Linked DNA regions of Homo sapiens. Changing the gene in region 2 together with the main gene of any one other region gives a genetic interaction. Each region holds a gene or a part of one and is shown on either strand. Other genes may lie near its edges.

Region 1 (4,639 bases), on a different chromosome or scaffold from region 2:
TATCTGAGCAAAGCATGGAAGAAAGCAGGGGACTGAGCCAGGCGTGTATCTGGGAAAGAGAGTTTTAGGCTGGGAAAGAAGGTAGTGGCCCAGAGGTGGAAGTGCACCTGGTGGGTGTGGGAAGCCAGGATGGAGCGAGCTGAGGAGGAGCTGTGGATGCGGCTGCAGATGTGATGGGCGGGGGAAGAGAGGAGCAGCAGGAGGGGCCTGGGAGGTTTCCACAAGGCCTGGCTTTGGCCTGTGGTGGTAATACCAGGGGGTTTGGGCAGGGAGTCACAGGACCTGACCTCACCACTGACAGAATAAGCAGCACCACGCTTTGGACATCATCCACAAAGCAATGAACAAGCATTAAATGACTTAAACAGGGGAAGAGAGTGGTCCAATGTATTTGGAGAAGTTAAAAAGCCCTCTGACCACAGGAGAGGCTAGATATACTTTTGAACCCTTATTTTTTTGCTTTTTTTTTTTTGAAGCAAGGTCTTGCTCTGTCACCCCGGCTGGAGTACAGTGGTACAATCACAGTTCACTGCAGCCTTGAACACCCGGGCTCAAGCGATCCTCCTGCCTCAGCCTCTCAAGGAGATAGCACCACAGGCATGCACCACCACACCTGGCTAATTTTTAAAACATTTTTTTGTAGAGATGGGGTCTCGCTATGTTGCCCAGCCTGGTCTCGAACTCCTGGCCTCAAGTGATCCTCCCACGTTGGCCTCCCAACGTGCTGGGATTACAGACGTAAGCCATTGTGCTGGGCCTTGAGCCCTTGTTTTACCATCAGGCATTATTCTCAGATCTGTATGTAAATCGACTCATTTCATCTTCCCAGTCACCCTATGAGGAAGGTGTTACCAGGAGCTGCATGTTACAGTTGAGGCATCCAAGACCTAACGTGGTGAAGGAGCCCACCCGAGGTCCTAGGGCAGGGGCAATTAGGACCAGGTTGTGTCTGCCCCCGACACAACCAGGAAACACATCTACCTCTCCCGGGCAATTTCTCCAGAATTCTCCTGAACAGCTGCTGCACTCTGTTCCAAAGGTTAATGGGAATTAGTTTCTTCTGGTAAAAATGGGCAGGGTGATGGGGACCTACCTGGCCTTTAGCAGGGCTAAGGGCTTCATCCTCCTCTTCCCCTTCGCTGCCCAGGACCCGGGCCGCCTTCCTCCCTGGCCTCTTCACCGGAGAGTCACTCTCGGACACCACTCCATTCCACTCCTTCAGTGCCGCCCTGGAAGGTGGGGAAATGGGGGTGTAAAGGGGCGACTACAGCAGGCAGAGTGGGGGCACTGCCCGCAAACACTTTGGTTTCTTTGCTGTTTCCTTCCCTTCCTTTCAAGCATCCAATGAACATTTTCTGGTTGTCTCCTCAGCAAATCTCATCATTTCATCCATCAGTGCATTAATCCACCCGCCCACTCATCCACTCACCCACCCATCACACATCTCTGGAAGTCTCCAGAGTGCCTGCCCTGTGATGGGTGATGCTGAGGAGCAAATGGAGTCCCTGCCTAAGGTTGCCATTGGTCTCCAGCATCTATTGGGATGCCTTTTTTTTTTTTTTTTTGAGATGGAATCTTGCTCTGTCGCCCAGGCTGGAGTGCAGTGGGCCGAGATCACACCATTGCACTCCAGCCTGGGTGAGAGTGAGACTCCATTTCAAAAAAAAAAGAGTACTGTTGTCTTCTACTTAGATGAGACAGCATCAAGACGTGGCCAGTGGCCAGCGGCCAGCTTCTCTGCATTATGGAGAATGTCTGGTTCTAGAACGAGGCCAAGACCTGCAGAAACAGAGACGTACAGACAACTCCGAGGCCCTGGATCCAGCTGTGCCTGCAGCTGCTCTTGCTCTTGGACTTCTGGCCACCTGGCTGAAAAAGTTTTTTGGGCCCCAAGACATTTTGCATTAGGTTTGAACACTTGCAACCAAGACAATCCTGACTGCTAAAGGAAAAAATTCACCATATCCCAGCCCTGTGACATACTTTGGAGGGGGCTCCGTCTCTCTGCTGCTATTGGATGCCTCCTTCTCAGGCTTCTTTGCTTTACCCTCTTTCTTGGGGTGGAAAAATGACCTAGAGGAGCATAAAAGGGGGTAAAAAAAGGAGAATAACAGCACCAATACCCTGCCTATCTATGCTGTATCCTATAACTTCCTTTTTTTTTTTTTTTTTTGAGACAGAGTCTCGCTCTGTAGCCCAGGCTGGAGTGCAATGGCGCAATCTCAGCTCACTGCAAGCTCCGCCTCCTGGGTGCATGCCATTCTCCTGCCTCAGCCTCCCAAGTAGCTGGAACTACAGGCACCCGCCACCATGCCCAGCTAATTTTTTGTATTTTTAGTAGAGATGGGGTATCACCGTGTTAGCCAGGATGGTCTCGATCTCCTGACCTTGTGATCTGCTTGGCCTCCCAATGTGCTGGGATTACAGGCATAAGCCACCGCGCCCGGCCGCATCCTATAACTTCTAACACCATTTCCATCTCAGCACATAACAGAGAATTTCAAATAAGCCCTTTAACTTAACTGATAAGGAAACTCAGACTCAGACAAAGGAGGCAACACTAATTTTTCTGCCCTAACGCACCTGCAAGATATGATACATCCCAAGTTTTATTCAACAAATATTAACTATGCACTTTTTAAATCTTTTTTTTTTAGACAGACTCTCGCTCTGTTGCCCAGGCTAGAGTGCAATGGTGTGATCTCGGCTCACTGCAACTTCTGCCTCCCAGGTTCAAGCGATTCTCCTGCCTCAGCCTCCCGAGTAGCTGGGATTACAGGTGCCCACCACAACGCCCAGCTAATTTTTTTTGTATTTTTGGTAGACACGGGTTTTCTCCATGTTGGCCAGGCCAGTCTCAAACTCCTGACCTTAGGTGATCCACCCACCCTGGCCTCCCAAAGTGTTGGGATTACAGGCATGTGCCCCCGCGCCCAGCCTAAAAAAATTTTTTTTTTTGAGATGGAGTTTTCACTCTTGTTGCCCAAGGGTGGAGTGCAATGGTGCAATCTCGGCTCACTGCAACCTCGGCCTCCCAGTTTCAAGTGTTTCTCCTGCCTCAGCCTCCTGAGTAGCTGAGATTACAGGTGGCCGCCACCACGCCCGGCTAATTTTTTTCATTTAGTAGAGAAGGGGTTTCACCATGTTGGTCAGGCTGGTCTCGAACTCCTGATCTCAGGTGATCCTCCTGCCTCCCAAAGTGCTGGGATTACAGGTGTGAGCCACTGCGCCCGGCCTACCTAAGCACTTATTATGTGCCAGGGCCTGTTCTGGGCCTGAGGGGTTTGGCAGTGACCCAGACACACGAAGTTCCTGCCTTCAAGAAGCTAACACTCTGGTGAAGGGCAGAAATATTAAGCAAACAACTAAATATAAAATGTTGGGGCCTGGCATGGTGGCTCACACCTGTAATCCCAACACTTTGGGAGGCCGAGGTGGGCGGATCACGAGGTCAGGAGATCAAGACCATCCTGGCTAACACGGTGAAACCCTGCTTCTACTAAAAATACAAAAAAAATTAGCTGGGTGTGGTGGCAGGCGCCTGTAGTCCCAGCTACTCAGGAGGCTGAGGCAGGGGAATGGCCTGAACCTGGGAGGCAGAGCTTACAGTGAGCCAAGATCGCGCCACTGCACTCCAGCCTGGGCGACAGAGCAAGACTCTGTCTCAAAAAAAAAAAAAAAAAAAATGTTGGAAGGCGTGAACATTAAAAAAAAAATCTGGTGAAATCTGAATAATAAAGTATGGAGTTCAGTTAAGAGTAATGTACTGACATTAGTATCTCAGTGGTGAGAAACGGATCATAGTAATGTATGATATTGACAATGGAAACTGGCCAAGGGTATACAGGACCTCTCTGTACTGTCTTTGCAACTTTCCTGTACCTCTAAAATTATTCCAGAATAAGAGGTTTATTTAATCTTCAAAAAGAAAAGGAAAAATCATGCAAAAGCCAGTGGACAGAAAGCAATCGAAGGCACCATCAGCCCTGGAGAGACAATCCCCAGATTCCTCATCACGGGAGAAAAACGGAACCCAGCATTTGTGTAAGCCACTACCGCCCAGGTTTCTGGGATGGATGCCCTTGTCTGGGTCTCTCTACCATCCATTTTTTCCTCCTGGTAACAGCCCCTCCGTTTTCCTCTTGGGATGCTTCTTACCCCACATTCTCTCAGTACACACGATTTGAGTGGGCTGGCCCTTTTGCCTGTGACCAGGGGTGGACACGTGATCCAGGCTGCATCCCTGTGGCTGGTTCAGGGATAGGTATGTGGCCCAGGCTGGGCCAGTGAAACTGGGCTCTAACACCCTCTTTCCAAGGGGACCGCTAAGAGGGGAGAGCCCGCCTGAGGGTGAGGACAACCTCAAGGACAGTAGAGCTGAACAATGGAGAGAGACAGATTCCCAGGGAGGAAGTTTTGGCAACTGGATCGAACCAAGCCTGAGGCTGTTTACTCCAGCAGGTTTCAATGATATAAGTCAAGTCATGCCCTTTCTTGTCTTCCTGAAGCCGGACTGCATTAACACGAGGTTTCTCAACCTAGACACTATTGACATGTTGGGCCTGATGGTTCTGTGTTGTTGGGGGGGCTGTCCTATGAATTGAAGGATGTTTAGCAGCATGCCTGGCTTTTAGCCACT
Region 2 (5,474 bases):
AAAATTAGTTGGGCAACTGTAGTCCTAGCTTCTCCAGAGGCTGACGTGGGAGGATTGCTTGAGCCCAGGAGTTAGAAACTGCAGTGAGCTAAGATCATGCCGGTACATTCCAGCCTAGGCAACAGAATGAGAGCTGTCCTCTGTTAAATCTGACATACTCACCCTCTGAACCCTTTCTTGGCAAATTTATTTACTTTTTAAAATTCCCAATTCTGAGCCGTTACTAACCTGTTTGCAGTAAGCAGCTAGTCAGACATACCAACAGCTGCAAGGACCAGCTGCTGCAAGGGCAGACAGTGATATGGTTTGGATCTGTGTCCCCACTAAATCTCCTATCAAATTATAATCCCGAATGTTGGAGGTGGGGCCTGGTGGGAGGTCACTGGATCACCGGGACAGATTTCTCCCTTGGTGCTGTGTCATGATACTTGTGAGTTCTCCTGAGATCTGGTTGTTGAAAAATGTGTAGCACCTCCCCTTTCACTCTCTTCCTCCTGCTCCGGCCATGTCAACTGCCGGCTTCTCCTCTGCCTTCTGCCATGACAGTAACAAGGTTGGAGGACTGACACTACCCAACCTAAAGACTTACTATGAAGCCACAGCAGTCAACACAGTGTGGTACTGGCAAAAGGATACGTAGATCAGTGGGACAGAACAGGGAGCCCAGAAACAGAGCCACACAAGCACAGTCCACTGATCTTTGACAAAAAAGTAAAGGCAAAAATGGAGAAAAGATAGTCTTTTCAACAAACGGAGCTGTAACAACTGGACATCCACATGCGAAAAAAAAAAAAGAAAAAAAATAAAGGAATCTAGACACAGACCTTACACCCTTCACAAAAAGTAACCAAAATGGATAACAGACCTAAATGTAAGACACAAAACTGTTAAACTTCTAGAAGAAAATCTATATGACCTTGGGTCTGGTGATGACTTTTTACAAACACCAAAAGCCCAATCCACTAAAGAAGTAACTGATTAACTAGACTTCACAAAATTAAGAACTTCTGCTCTGCGGAAGACCAGCCACACACTGAGAAAAAATATTTTCAAAAGACATATGACAAAGGGCTGTTATCCAAAATATACCAAGAACTCTTAGGACTCAACAGTAAGAAAACAAACAATGTGATTTTAAAAAGAGCAAAACCAGGAGTTTGAGACCAGTCTGGGCAACAAGGTGGGGCCCTGTCTCTACAAAAAATTTAAAAAAATTAGCCAGGCATGGTGGTGCGCACCTGTAGTCCCAGCTACTCAAGAGGCTGAGGTGGGAGACAGAGGTCAAGGCTGCAGCGAACTGTGATCACACCACTGCACTCTAGCCTGGGCGACGGAGCAAGACAGTCTTAAAAAAAAAAAAAAAAAGTGGGGGTAGGGGCAGGCAAAAGACATTTCACCAAAGATATACAGATGGTAAATAAACGTATGAGAAGATGTTCAAGATAATTACAGTATTAGGGAAATGCAAATTAAAACAATAATAAAATACTATATATCTATTGGAATGGCCAAAATCCAAAACAATGATAACACCAAATGCTGGCAAAGATGTATAATGATACGAACTCTCATCTATTGCTGGTGGGAATGGAAAATGATTCAGCTTTTTGAAAGACAGCTTGGCAGTTTCTTACAAAACTAAATATACTCTTACCACATGATCCAGCAATTGTACTCCTTGATTACCCAAAGGAGTTGAAAACTTATGTCCCCATAAAAACCTGCACATGGTGGGTGTTTCTAGCAGCTTTGTTCATAATCACCAAAACTTGGAAGCAATCAAGATGTCCTTCAGCAGGTCAATGAATAAACAAACTGTGGTAATCCAGACAATGGAATATTATTCAGTAATAAAAAGAAATGAGCTATCAATACGACAAGACATGGAGGAATCTTTTTTTTTTTTTTTTTTTGAGATGGAGTTTCGCTCTGTTGCCAGGCTGGAGTGCAGTGGCATGATCTCGGCTCACTGCAACCTCCGCCTCCCAGTACAACCAATTCTCCTGTCTCGGCCTCCCGAGTAGCTGGGACTACAGGTGCACACCACCACACCGGCTAATTTTTGTATTTTTAATAGAGACAGGGTTTCACCATATTGGCCAGGCTGGTCTCGAACTCCTGACCTCGTAATCTGCTGGGCTCGGCCTCCCAAAGTGCTGGGATTACAGATGTGAGCCACCGTGCCCGGCTCGACATGGAGGAATCTTAAGAGCACATTGCTAGTGAGAGAAGCCAATCTGAAAAGGCTACCTTCTGTATGATTCCAACTATATTATATTCTGGAAAAGGAAAAACTATGGAGAAAGCAAAAAGATCAGTGGTTACTGGAGGTTAGAGGGGAGGGAGGAATGACTAGGCAAAGCACAGAGATTTCCCAGGCAGTGAAAGGACTCTGGAGGCTACCATAAAGGTACATGCATGTCAATGTATGTTTGTTAAAACTGACAGAATGTACAATGCAAAGAGTGAGCCCTCATGTAAACTACAGACCTCGAGGGATAACGATGTGTCAATGTGGCTCATCAGTTATAACCATGGACCACTCCGATAACGATGTGTCAATGTAGCTCATCAGCTATAACCATGGACCACTCTGGTGGCGATGTTGATTGTGGACAAAAGTCTGTGTATGTGTGGGGTGGGTAGGGCTAGCGGGTATATGGAAACTCTGTACTTTACTCAATTTTGCTGTGAACCTAAAACTGCTATAAGAAAAAAAGTCTACATACAGAAGAATGTCATGAACCTGGGAGGCGGAGCTTACGGTGAGCCGAGATCACACCACTGCACCCCAGCTTGGGTGACAGAGCGAGAATCCGTCTCCAACAACAACGAAAAAAGTTTACATATAAAAAAAGGTTAAACAGACAATGGAACAGAAATTTTTAAAAGGACCCCAAAATACAGAGATTTTGTGCATGATACAAGACACCTCTCAATGGGGGAGATGAATAAGCCAATAAACAAAGTACAAAAAATTAGCTGGGCATGGTGGCAGGCACCACGCTACTCGGGAGGCTGAGGCAGGAGAATCGCCTGAACCCGGGAGGCGGAGGTGGCAGTGAGCCAAGACCATGCCACAGCACTCCAGCCTGGGCAACAGAGTGAGACTCCATCTCGAAAACAAAACAAAAACAAAAACAACAACAAAAAAACAAAGTAGGGAAACTAGATCATCATCTGGAAAAAAATAAAACTGGAGTCACGCCTCACACCACACATCAGCACACACCGGGATAACTCTCAAATAGAGTAAACATTTAGATGTTAAAAGAAATAAGGAACCATAAAATTACACGTACTGGATGTAGTTCATCTGTATCCCCAGGGTGGGCTACCTGACAGTGGCTGCTGGTGCCACAGCCTTGTTCCCTAGCACTGTCACTGCCTCAGGGTAAGGGCCACACCCTGGCATACCCACCCTGTAGTGACCACCACAGTAACAAACACAGCACTGTCACCAACAGGCCAACTCTTTCAAAACCAGGGACTGAGAGTCCTCCCGCCACTTCCAGATCTAGAGGCAGCTCTGGCTGCAGGGCGTGACTGTGCAGAGGCCAGGAACACAGTCTGGAAGTGCAGAGAACCACAGCACCTCCAGCGAGCTAAAACCAATGAGAAACAAGAGGCAGAAAGAACCAATGGATAATGCTGCTCCCTTCCTCCTGCTCCGAGGGGCTTTTCTGAAGCTTAGTGGCAAAGGACTTGCGTGAGGGCATCCTGCATGACCAAGCCATTGGCTGTTTCTCATGAAGCCATGGCCAGCTTGACAGCGTATGGCACTGTGCTTGCCCTCCTGCCTCCCCTTCCTCCCTCTCTCTTGCTGCCCTAGGATTACCTCTCCTAATAAAGCTTTTAATAGCTTTGCTTTCTGCTCTGCTATGTCACCTGACGTGACCTGTACTAAGACATGGGAGAAGACATAAAAGGAGAAAACTGTGGAGACAGTAAAAAGAGCAGTGGTTGTCAGGAATTAGGAGGGATAAACAGGGGATTTTTAGAGCAGTGAAACTGATGCAGGGCAGGCCAGCCCTAAATTGGGGATTGGCCTGGGCGGGTCCTTGGCTTCGCTCTGGAAAGCATTTAAGAGCGAGCTCGTGGTAGAAGAAAGCAGCTTTATTGAGGCAGCAGTGTTATGGCTCTGTGACTGCTCCTGCAGAGCAGGGCTACCCCACAGGCACTGTGCTGAGAGCAGCAGCTCAAAGGCAGTTCTGAAGTCATATTTACACCCACTTTTAATTATATGCAAATTAAGGGGCAGACTATGCAGACATGTTAAGAAACGGGGTGGTAACTTTTAGGTCATCAGATTGTTGTCACAGAAAGGGGTGGTAACTTCCGGGTATTGCCATGGCAATGGTAAACTGATATGGCACACTGGTGGGTGTTTTATGGAAAGCTGCTTCGTCCCTGTCCCTGCTTTAGTTAGTCCTCGGTTTGGTTTGGTGTCTGAGCCCCACCTCCTACCTCATTCCCCTCTCAGAGATGAGCTATTCTTCCTTAATCTTAAGGGGGCTGCAGAAGGGTGCAGGTCTGAAACTACTCTGTATGATACTATAATGGCAGATGCATGTCATCATACATTTGTCCAAACCCATAGAATGTAGAGCATCAGGAGTTTCTGGACTCTGGGCAATAATGATGTGTCAGTGTAGGTTCCTCAATTATAACAAATGTACTACTCTGGTGGGAGGTGTTGACAAGGAAGAGCCTGTGTGGTGGGAGGGGGAGGGGGTACTGGAAACTCTTTGTTCTTTGCTTACTTTTGCCATGAACAAAAATAAAGTATATTAAAAACAAAACAACTTTAAAGGCTACATTCCAAGCACCTGGAAAAACAAAATACCAAATATCATGCAACAGATGATGCTGAGTCCAGGAGGTGTTGCTGAAATAACATGGGCACCATACGCTTGATCTGCACATGTGGGAGAGGGCAAGCTGGGGGAGGTTTGCTTTGCTCTCTGAGACGAGGCCCTCCTGGGAGCTTCAGGGTGGGGGCTGAATGCCCATGCTGCCCCAGTATGTACACACCTGTCACTCCTCCAGCTTCCGCTGTCTTCTTGACTTTCTGCTGGTCATCCCACCGAAGCTCAGAGAACCCATCCACCTCAACGTCAGGGTGCCGGATGGAGTGGCCCACCTTCCAGAAGCAGGAGAAGTGGTACCAGTGTGGGACTTTTCCATCAAACATGGGCGACTAGAAGGAAGAGAAACAGAGGGAAGTAAGTAAGCAGTTAACTTTTGACTTAGACCCACTAGACCTTGACCTTGACCTCGACCCCAGTCCCAGCCCCAGCAGTGGGATAGCACATGAAACTTTTGTTCTCCTATCTGTGAAAGGAGGACAGCCTCCGCTCTCACATGAAGAGCTGCAGCATCCTTCTCACGATCTTCCCCAAGGGTCAGAAGACTGTAGCCCACTGTTCTTGAGCTCATTCTCTTAGGACACCAAACACAGCCACGAGAAAGGT
Region 3 (4,639 bases), on a different chromosome or scaffold from region 2:
TGACAAGGAGGAGAAAAGACAATTTCAAATCACATGTCAGAGAAGAACCAGAAAGTCTCTGACATGCCCCAAGTGTCCTCGACCACAGCTGAGCCACACACATGATGACTTCTCCATATGATCCCAGGTTAAACAGAAAAGATATAACCAGGTATAATATTGAAACTATAGGCGGCTATTTATGGGACCCCTGGGGGTAAGGTGAGCTTTCGGACAAGAACTGAGCTGCTAGGACCCATGGTTGACAGATAAGAGAACGGCTGCCTTAAAAGAAAAAGTGATGCAGAGAAATGGTGAAATTAAGAAAAGGAGACAGATCCCTGATAATGTTCATTGACACCTGGATTCAGCCATGCCTGAAGACCACCCTCCCTGAAATTTACACTCCTTTGACTCTCTTTATTTGCTTAGAGCACACGAAGTTGAGTTTCCATCACTCACAACTGAAAGAGACCTCAGCAGCCAGAGAGCTGGTGACCTGCACAGAGTCACTAAGGATTTGGGGGTCAGAGCCATAGATTTTGTGGGATGCTGCCACTTCCCTAGCTCAGCCTGGTGTGTCCAAGGATGAGAAGAGCAGAGAGCAAGGGGAGGTCAAGCAGCTGGTGTGGGTTCTCCTATTGGAGAATCCTGAAGCCCATAGGAGGAGAGCAGGAAACTTAGGGTGGATGAGTGATAGGATGAGGTAGAAGGAACTGACCCATCATAGGTGGATGTCACATAAATAGCAGCCCAGATTCTCCACCAGCCACAAATCCTCCTACCGCTTTGGACTGAGGGATGGGCAAGGCTGGTGCAAGGACTGGCTGGGACCCCAAATACCAATGATGCCCACTGCATCATCCTGCCCCACACTTAAAAAATCCTACTTATTGGTCTAGACATAGCTCCAACAACTCTTCCTCCAGGAAACATTCCAGCCTGCCCCAGCAGACACCCAGTTCTCTGTGTTGTCATACCCATCTCTCTCTTGCCCATTCCTGACCCTATGAGGCTGGAAATGTCTCTGTCTAGACCCGTGTCCTTAAGCATGGGGGTTCCTTCCAGAAAGGGCCCTGAATTGAGGCCTCTTGGAGCCCCAGTGGTGCCCAGAACACCAAGACAGGGAGCAGATGGCAATGGAGGGAGAAGACATTGAGAAGGAAGTCTCAATGAGGGGCACGAGTACTCAAGGAGGGACGTGGGTACTGCAGAGACCACACAGAAGCTTGGTCTGGCACCCACCACCACAAGCTCTGCATGGGTACCTGAGGCATTGGTGATAGACCGGATGGTGTCAGGGTGGCATAAAACGATGAAGGGGATGATGGGACCCAGCCATACCGTAAAGCCCTGGGAATAGGTGGCCGACATCTGGGTCGAGTTCTTCAAGCCCTCCTCTGTAGGAGTGATCTGAAAGCAAGTCAAGGGCTGTCACTTCCTGTGATGGTTAATTTTAGGTGTCCACTAGACTGGGCTAAGGGATGCCCAGATAGCCAGTCAAACATTATTGCTGTGTGTGTCTGTGAGGGTGTTTGAGAAGAGATTAGCATTTGAAGGTAAACAGGATGGAAATAGTAGTGCAGAGGAATGAGTGAGTGAGGAAAGGAATGAGTGAGTGAGGAGAGGAATGAGTGAGTGTGGAGAGGAAGGAGTGAGTGAGGAGAGGAATGAGTGAGTGAGGAGAGGAATGAGTGAGTGAGGAGAGGAATGAGTGAGTGAGGAGAGGAATGAGTGAGTAAGGAGAGGAATGAGTGCATGGGTAGAGGAATGAGTGAGTGAGGAGAGGAATGAGTGAGTGAGGAGAGGAATGAGTGAGGAGAAGAATAAGAGTGAGCAGAGGAATGAGTGAGTGAGCGAGCAGAAGAATGAGTGAGTGAGGAGAGGAAGGAATGAGTGAGGAGAAGAATGAGTGCATGGGTAGAGGAATGAGTGAGTGAGGAGAGGAATGAGTGTGTGGGTAGAGGAATAAGTGAGGGAGGAGAGGAATGAGTGAGTGAGGAGAGGAATGAGTGAGTGAGGAGAGGAATGAGTAAGTGAGGAGAGGAATGAGTGAGTGAGGAGAGGAACGAGTGAGTGAGGAGAGGAATGAGCGAGTGAGGAGAGGAACGAGTGAGTGAGGAGAGGAATGAGCGAGTGAGGAGAGGAATGAGTGAGTGGGTAAAGGAATGGGAGGAGGGGAATGAGTGAGGAGAGGAATGAGTGAGTGGGTAGAGGAATGAGTGAGTGGGTAAAGGAATGAATGAGTGAGGAGAGAAATGAGTGAGTGAGGAGGGGAATGAGAGAGTGAGCAGAGGAATGAGTGAGTGAGGACAGGAATGAGTGAGTGAGGAATGAGTTGAGTGAGGAGAGGAATGACTAAGTGAGCAGAGGAATGAGTTGAGTGAGGAGAGGAATGACTAAGTGAGCAGAGGAATGAGTGAGTGAGGAGAGGAATGAGTGAATGGGTAGAGGAATGAGTAAGTGAGGAGAGGAATGAGTGAGTTGGTATTGGAATTAGTGAGGAGAGGAATGAGTGTGGGTAGAGGAATGAGTGAGTGAGGATATGAATGAGTGAGTGAGCAGAGGAATGAGTGAGTGAGGAGAGGAATGAGTGAGTGAGGACAGGAATGACTGAATGAGGGGAGGAATGAGTGAGTGAGGAGAGGAATGAGTGAGTTGGTATTGGAATGAGTGAGTGAGGAGAGGAATGAGTGAATGGGCACAGGAATGAGTGAGTGAGGAGAGGAATGAGTGAGTGGGGAGAGGAATGAGTAAGTGAGGAGAGGAATGAGTGAGTGAGGAGAGGAATGAGTGAGTGGGTAAAGGAATGGGAGGAAGGGAATGAGTGAGGAGAGGAATGAGTGAGTGGGTAGAGGAATGAGTGAGTGGGTAAAGGAATGAATGAGTGAGGAGAGAAATGAGTGAGTGAGGAGGGGAATGAGTGAGTGAGGAGAGGAATGAGTGAGTGAGGAATGAGTTGAGTGAGGAGAGGAATGACTAAGTGAGCAGAGGAATGAGTGAGTGAGGAGAGGAATGAGTGAATGGATAGAGGAATGAGTAAGTGAGGAGAGGAATGAGTGAGTTGGTATTGGAATTAGTGAGGAGAGGAATGAGTGTGGGTAGAGGAATGAGTGAGTGAGGATATGAATGAGTGAGTGGGCAGAGGAATGAGTGGGTGAGGAGAGGAATGAATGAGTGAGAAAAGGAATGAGTGAGTGAGGACAGGAATGACTGAATGAGGAGAGGAATGAGTGAGTGAGGAGAGGAATGAGTGAATGGGCACAGGAATGAGTGAGTGAGGAGAGGAATGAGTGAGTGAGGAGAGGAATGAGTGAGTTGGTATTAGAATGAGTGAGTGAGGAGAGGAATGAGTGAATGGGCACAGGAATGAGTAAGTGAGGAGAGGAATGAGTGAGCCGTCTCCCTTGGTTCTCTGGGTTCCCAGACCCCAGCCACCATCAATACACAGCTCCCTGAACCCCTACTGGAAGTCCCACCCCTCTGGAAGTCCACCCACCCTGAGACGCCAGACCCCATCCAATCCATTGAGGGCATGAACAGGACAAAAGGCAGAGGAAAGGAAGAACTTGCTCTCTCTTCTGCTGCTGGGATATCCGTCTTCTCCTGCCCTCAGAACTCCAGGGACTCAGGCCTTTCTGGACTCAGGCTGAATTTACACCACCAGTGTCCCTGGTTTCTGGCTTGCAGATGATATATCATGGGACTTCTTGGCCTCCATCATCACATTATCCAATTCCCATAATAAATTCTTATCTCTCTATCTCTTTCTGTCTCCATACATACATGCATTAGAGATAAGAAGAAACACCCTATCTGTTTCTAAGGAGATTCCGTTTCTAGGGAGAACCCTGACTAATGCACCTCCCTAGATGAAGCCACAGCAAGTCCCCCCACAGCCACCGGATGTGGTGCAGCCTCTGCAGTGAGCAGCGTGTCTGGATTCTCAGCAGCTGCAGTGGGTTTCTGCTGACTTCTGCTCCTTCTCTCTTGGAGCTGTCCCCAAGATCCAAGGGTAAATACCAAAGCAGAGAGAGAAGACAAGCTGTCTGCTCAAGAGGATGTGTTTTCTCATCCTGGATTGATTTCAATCTGGGGATTGCTATATGGGAAGGTCCCCATGGAAGGAGGTTTGTGGGCAGCAGTGTGGCCTCAGGACATATCCCTAGAGCTGGTTGCCATATCCTTTTGTGTCCTGGTTGGTCCACATGGGCACTGGTTCCTCCCACAGACAAAGGGCCTGCGTCCTGAGGGCCCTCCATTCTCAGCAGCCTCCAGGGGAGCAGAGGTGACTCTAATGTCCATCAGGATGGCAGCTCCCACCTAGGAGAGCCTCACTTATGCCAGGTTCTGTGCTAGTGCCTCCTGTGCACCTGTGGACACACCGATCAATCCTGCCTTTTGTAAGTGAGCAGACAGAGGCCACATCCCCCAAAGGGGAGGGCCGGTCCCAGTCGGAGGGAAAGGTTTGGGAGTACCAAGGACGGCTTCTGAAAGGGGAAGGGAGTGGCCAAATTATATCCAGGTTGGGCTACAGGGCTCACTGGGACATCTTACTGGGGAAGAGCACATTGTCCCTGGAAGGAGAGGGTGTGGGAGACTGCCTGCACTTCTCTTCTGGTCCAGCTGTGTCCCTCCGTGGGGAAGGAAGTCAGAGATA
Region 4 (4,639 bases), on a different chromosome or scaffold from region 2:
TTCCAAGCCCCAGGCCTCACAAACGTGCTGGTATGTCCCAAGCCAGAGGCCACAAGGAGCACCCAGGGGACCCAAGGGAGCTCTTGGATGTCAGGAACAGGACCCTCTTGGGGTCCTTGCCAGGGGAGTGGTCTGAGGCCATCTCCACCAGGAGCCCCCTCCCCACCATGGGCACCAAGGGCGACTCACGCAGACCCACGGGTGCTTCAGGGCCTCATGGGCTGTGATGCGCTTGGCAGGGTTGATGGTCAGCATCTGGTTGATGAGGTTTTTGGCTTCAGGAGTGACGGTGTCCCACTCAGGGGACGGGAACTGCAGAAGGAAACAGCGCCCCGGCCGGGCCTGAAGCTCCCTCTCAGGCAGGGGCAAGAATTCTCCAAGGGGCTTCATCTCCAGCCACGAATCTGGGAGAGCAGGACCCAGGACCTGGCCACAGGTGGCTTCACCCCACTCCTAGCCTCTTCCCACGCTGCCCTCACCCGGCCACACCTGGAGGAAGGGAGCTCATCAGAGAGGGGCTGGTGCACTCACGTCATAGGCACCAGCCTTGATCTGCTGGTACAGCTTGTGCTGGTCCTCGTCCCAGAAGGGTGGGTAGCCCACGAGCAGGATGTACAGGATCACCCCTGCGGATGGGGCCTGTGAGCACCGCAGCCACTTGCAGGGTGCCACCGTCCATGAAGCCCATGCCCTGCACCCTCACTGCCTAGCTCCTGTGGCCCTGGGAGGGCATTGGGGTCCTCAGCATTCCTTTGCCCCCACCTGTGCAGCAGACACTGGGGTAGAAGGGCACAGCCGGCCCCCTGACCTCTGCCCCACACCCACACTATCACAGGGATGAGGGTGATGTCAAGCCCCTCTGCTGCTCCCCACCTCTGTGGGAGGAGACCCCTACCCAAGGAGGTGGCCCTGCCCATGGCCCAACAGCCCCTGACCTCTCTTCTCCACTCCCATCCACCCACCACACTTCTGGACCAGACCTCTGCTGAGCGCAGGCGAGCACTGGGGTGCGCCAGGTTCATGTGAGCAATTCTAATCTGGGTGGAAAGGGGGCTCTTGGCTGTGTGGGCAGACCCCTGCCAGGGCAGCTCAAGGGCAGGTCTGACACAGATAAACCCAGATGAGAGCAAGACGTGCTGGCCACTGCACACTCCAGGATGTAGGTGGGAAGTCCTGAAACACCCGAGGCCCTGCCCCGCACCAACTCAGGCCAGGCCTCACCACATGCCCAGATGTCCACAGGCTTGCCATACGCCTCTTTGCGAAGGACCTCAGGGGACAGGTAGCCTGGTGTGCCAGCGAAACCTAGAGAGAGGGGAAGAGGCCACAAGGGGCTGTCAGCATCACCTCCTGCCCTGCCAACTGCCAGCCAACACACCCTGCCCCTGGCACTCACCAAACCATGCCTGCTGGTCCCCCTGCACCTCGATAGCTAGGCCGAAGTCTGCCAGCTTCACTGCAGCCCCTTTGCACTTGCTGGCCAGAAGCAGGTTCTCCGGCTGCAGGGAGGTGACCGGCACAAGGGTGCATGTTGTTTAAACCCAGAGGTGTTATGTGGGGTTGGGTGGGGGGTTACAAAACAGAGAAAACAGTGGTTTGCAAGAGACAGGTGCACAGGTCTGAGCCCTGCCCCATGGTGTCTGCAGGGCATGGCTGAGCCTTCACCCCAGAGTCCCAGACGCTGAGCCTGCAACCCCACAGCCCCTCTGCCCCTGGGGACAGAGACACAGCAGCTCTGGCCTTTCAGAGGAAACTTGGCTCTCAGCCTGAGCTTGGATCCCCATAACCTGGAAGGGCGACCTGGGGGCTAGTTGGACCAAAACCTCAAGCTCATCCTTACAAGCAAACTAAATGTTCCCCACAGCCCTGGGGCAGACTGTGCAGTGGCTGGGGGCTCCCATGGCCCTCGGACTCCCACTGGCTGAGAGGCTGCAATGGCCCTCCCTTCCCTCCCTGTTTCTCACTCCTCAGAGACCTGGGATGTTGGGGGCTGCTTGAGGGGAAGTTCAGGTATTTCCTGCTGAGATGGTGACCCCCAAAGGGCAAGGAGAAACGCCCAGGGCCCTCAGCACTAGGGGCAGCCCAGGACATCCACCCACCAAGTCCCCCTGGCTCTGGTCATCCCCACTACATGGGGCAGGAAGGAGGCCCCTGCAATGACCCCCTGCCCGCTGGGTATCCACAGGTTGGGGGGTTACTCAGGCCCTGACACAGAGAGCAGTGCCCTTGCTCAAGCCAGAAGGACATCTGCTCCCTATCTTGCAGCAGCGGCCAAGGAGGCCTGGGGGCACTTGGCACTGAGGGCCTGAGGGGGTCCCAGGGCCACTGCATCCCATGGGACCTTCCTGTCCCAGCTTTCAAACCCCATCGGGCTCTGGCCTACCCATCAGCCTCACCATCTCCCAGCGGTGGGGTCTCTTGGCTGCAGGCCTTCCTTGTCCCTGACCAGCAGGGGGCTCCCTGGGGCCCTCGGGTCCCTTGGCCAGCCTCCCAGGCCACCCCTTTGCCCTGGTGAGTACCCCGCTGTCCTGGCACTGCTTCCATCTGATGCACTACCCTCGGGATCACACTGCCGCTTGATGAGCCGCCCAAAGAGACAAAACAGACCACTCCACCCACTTTTAACACTGGTTGTAAACCTCAGAGATCTTGAAATGTGAAAAAGTGACCCCCAGAATGAATGACATATGCTATCCCCATGTGGAAAGACTGCCACAGCCCCGAGCTGTGAGCGCCCCTCAGCAGAAACCCAGAGCTTCCTCGAAAGCTCCAGCCACGCCCTACTGAGCAGGCGGGATGAGGCCGTGTGCCCCCTTGACAAGGCAGCATTGGGGGCTTCTGTCCCCCACCTCCACCTCCTCGTCACCTTGGGGGTCCCAGCCTGCTGGGGCACACGCATCCGTGTCCACCGAGCACCAATCCACAGGCCACTGGACATGGTGATTTTGCCAACGTGAGTGGGTGGAGGCCCCAAGCTCCCCGTGCAGCTACATGGAGAAGTTGGACAGAGGAGGGGTCAGGGGCTGCATTTCTCCACCCAGCCCAGAGCAGACTTGCTGCATGTCCCCCCTCCCCAGAGGAAACAGACCAGCAGTTCTTCCGAAGAGAAGGAGCGTTAAGTGAACATGGACCGTAGGAAGCACTGGGCAAGAAGGCCTGGAGGCTCCAGGGTAGCTCTCAGGCTGTGCCCACCCCTGCTAGGCCACCCAGTGATGCCCCCACCCTGGCTCTTTTGCAGTTCCCTGGGATGACATCAACTGCCCTCTGCTCTCTACCACCCTCCCCAGTGGGGTGAGAGCAACCCCACTACTCTGCTGCTTCCTGGGCTGTCACGATCAAGATGGTGGATTTCTGTCCAGGAGAAAAGGACATCCTGTCCCCCTCAACAGGAGGTTGAGACAGCAAGAATTCTGTTTGTCCCCCAAATTGGGGAGGAGGTACCACTGACCTCTACTTCTATGCCTTGGCTCCAGAGTTAACCAGATAAATCATGGGGTCTGGTAACACAATGTCTGTGGCCCCTCACAGGAGAGCCACTGAGTCCTAGCACCAACCCACGTGGCCCCGAGGGGAGCACCTGGGGGCCCCCTCCTCCCAGAGGCGCCTGAGTGAGGCTGACTCAGGTGAGACAAAGCAGGACATGCTTGGGATGCAGAGATGAGAGGGAACAGGGGGTACGGTGGCGTGTAAAGGGTATAGGAGAGGGTCCCGGATCTGCTCTTGGTGTGACACTCTCCCCAGAGCAGCACAAAGATCATCGATGGCCTAAGGAAAGGTGTGACCCCCATTCAGCATGAAAACCAATGGGGAGGTTGGTCTTAAAAATGCCATCAGGGTGATGGCCCCAGGGTCTGCACTGCTTGCCTGTCTACAGAGAAGCAGCAGGCTGAACCAAGCCTTGGGGAAGGTGGGGTTGAAGAAGGAGGAAAGGAGATTGGAAGGAAGGAAAGGGAGGAAGGAAGGGAGAGAGGAAGGAGCAGAGAGACAGCTAAGCTTCTGAGAGGCCACCCTGTGCCCTGGGGGGTGACCAACCTTCTTCCGAACACAGCCTAGAACTGCTTTGCCCAGACCTGAGCTGGGGGCAGCAGAGACTTGAGGAAAGGGCTGGGAGGACTTGGCAGACCCTGGCGAGTCCTGCTCTCACCACTCTGCTCCCAGCGGCGTCAGCCCTGTCACCTGTGTCCTCATCTGCCACAGTGGAGTCTTGGTGGGGGCTCACAGTTAGACCCTGAGTGGACATTTGTTACTAGCTGATTTCTCTATTGCCCAGGCTGGAGTGCGGTGTAATAGGCTGATTTCTGAAGACTAACCCCTCCCAGCCCTGGAGGTCCGGAGGGGTAGGGAGGGCCATGTGCAGACACCCCTCCAACACACAAGTGCACACACATGCACATGTACACACATGCCCACACAGACACACACACACATGCATACACGCACACATGTACCCACATGTACACATTCACATATGCATGCGCATGAACATGCCCACACATGTACACACTTGTACACACTTGCATACTCATGCATGCACAGTCCCCACACACGTGCATGCACACATGCCATATGTATACACACATGCACACAGGCACACAGACACGCCACCACTCATGCAGACATATGCACTCACACCTCTAAG

Evidence for each region. A genetic interaction does not mean that the proteins touch.
Region 1: changes in PARP1 (region 2) and LIG1 together harm fitness more than expected from each alone (negative genetic interaction), as found in Homo sapiens cells (one large-scale study listed by BioGRID).
Region 3: changes in PARP1 (region 2) and CYP4F12 together harm fitness less than expected from each alone (positive genetic interaction), as found in Homo sapiens cells (one large-scale study listed by BioGRID).
Region 4: changes in PARP1 (region 2) and CAMK2B together harm fitness less than expected from each alone (positive genetic interaction), as found in Homo sapiens cells (one large-scale study listed by BioGRID).

The regions. Positions count from the first base shown.
Region 1 is NC_000019.10:48,160,279-48,164,917, forward strand, and holds part of LIG1 (DNA ligase 1), read right to left. Parts: intron 2,074-4,639; coding exon 1,984-2,073; intron 1,230-1,983; coding exon 1,094-1,229; intron 1-1,093.
Region 2 is NC_000001.11:226,397,180-226,402,653, forward strand, and holds part of PARP1 (poly [ADP-ribose] polymerase 1), read right to left. Parts: intron 5,201-5,474; coding exon 5,035-5,200; intron 1-5,034. UniProt on the Homo sapiens protein: Poly-ADP-ribosyltransferase that mediates poly-ADP-ribosylation of proteins and plays a key role in DNA repair.
Region 3 is NC_000019.10:15,675,014-15,679,652, reverse strand, and holds part of CYP4F12 (cytochrome P450 4F12), read right to left. Parts: intron 1,393-4,639; coding exon 1,248-1,392; intron 1-1,247. UniProt on the Homo sapiens protein: A cytochrome P450 monooxygenase involved in the metabolism of endogenous polyunsaturated fatty acids (PUFAs).
Region 4 is NC_000007.14:44,242,029-44,246,667, forward strand, and holds part of CAMK2B (calcium/calmodulin-dependent protein kinase type II subunit beta), read right to left. Parts: intron 1,500-4,639; coding exon 1,397-1,499; intron 1,306-1,396; coding exon 1,222-1,305; intron 627-1,221; coding exon 532-626; intron 313-531; coding exon 190-312; intron 1-189. UniProt on the Homo sapiens protein: Calcium/calmodulin-dependent protein kinase that functions autonomously after Ca(2+)/calmodulin-binding and autophosphorylation, and is involved in dendritic spine and synapse formation, neuronal plasticity and regulation of sarcoplasmic reticulum Ca(2+) transport in skeletal muscle.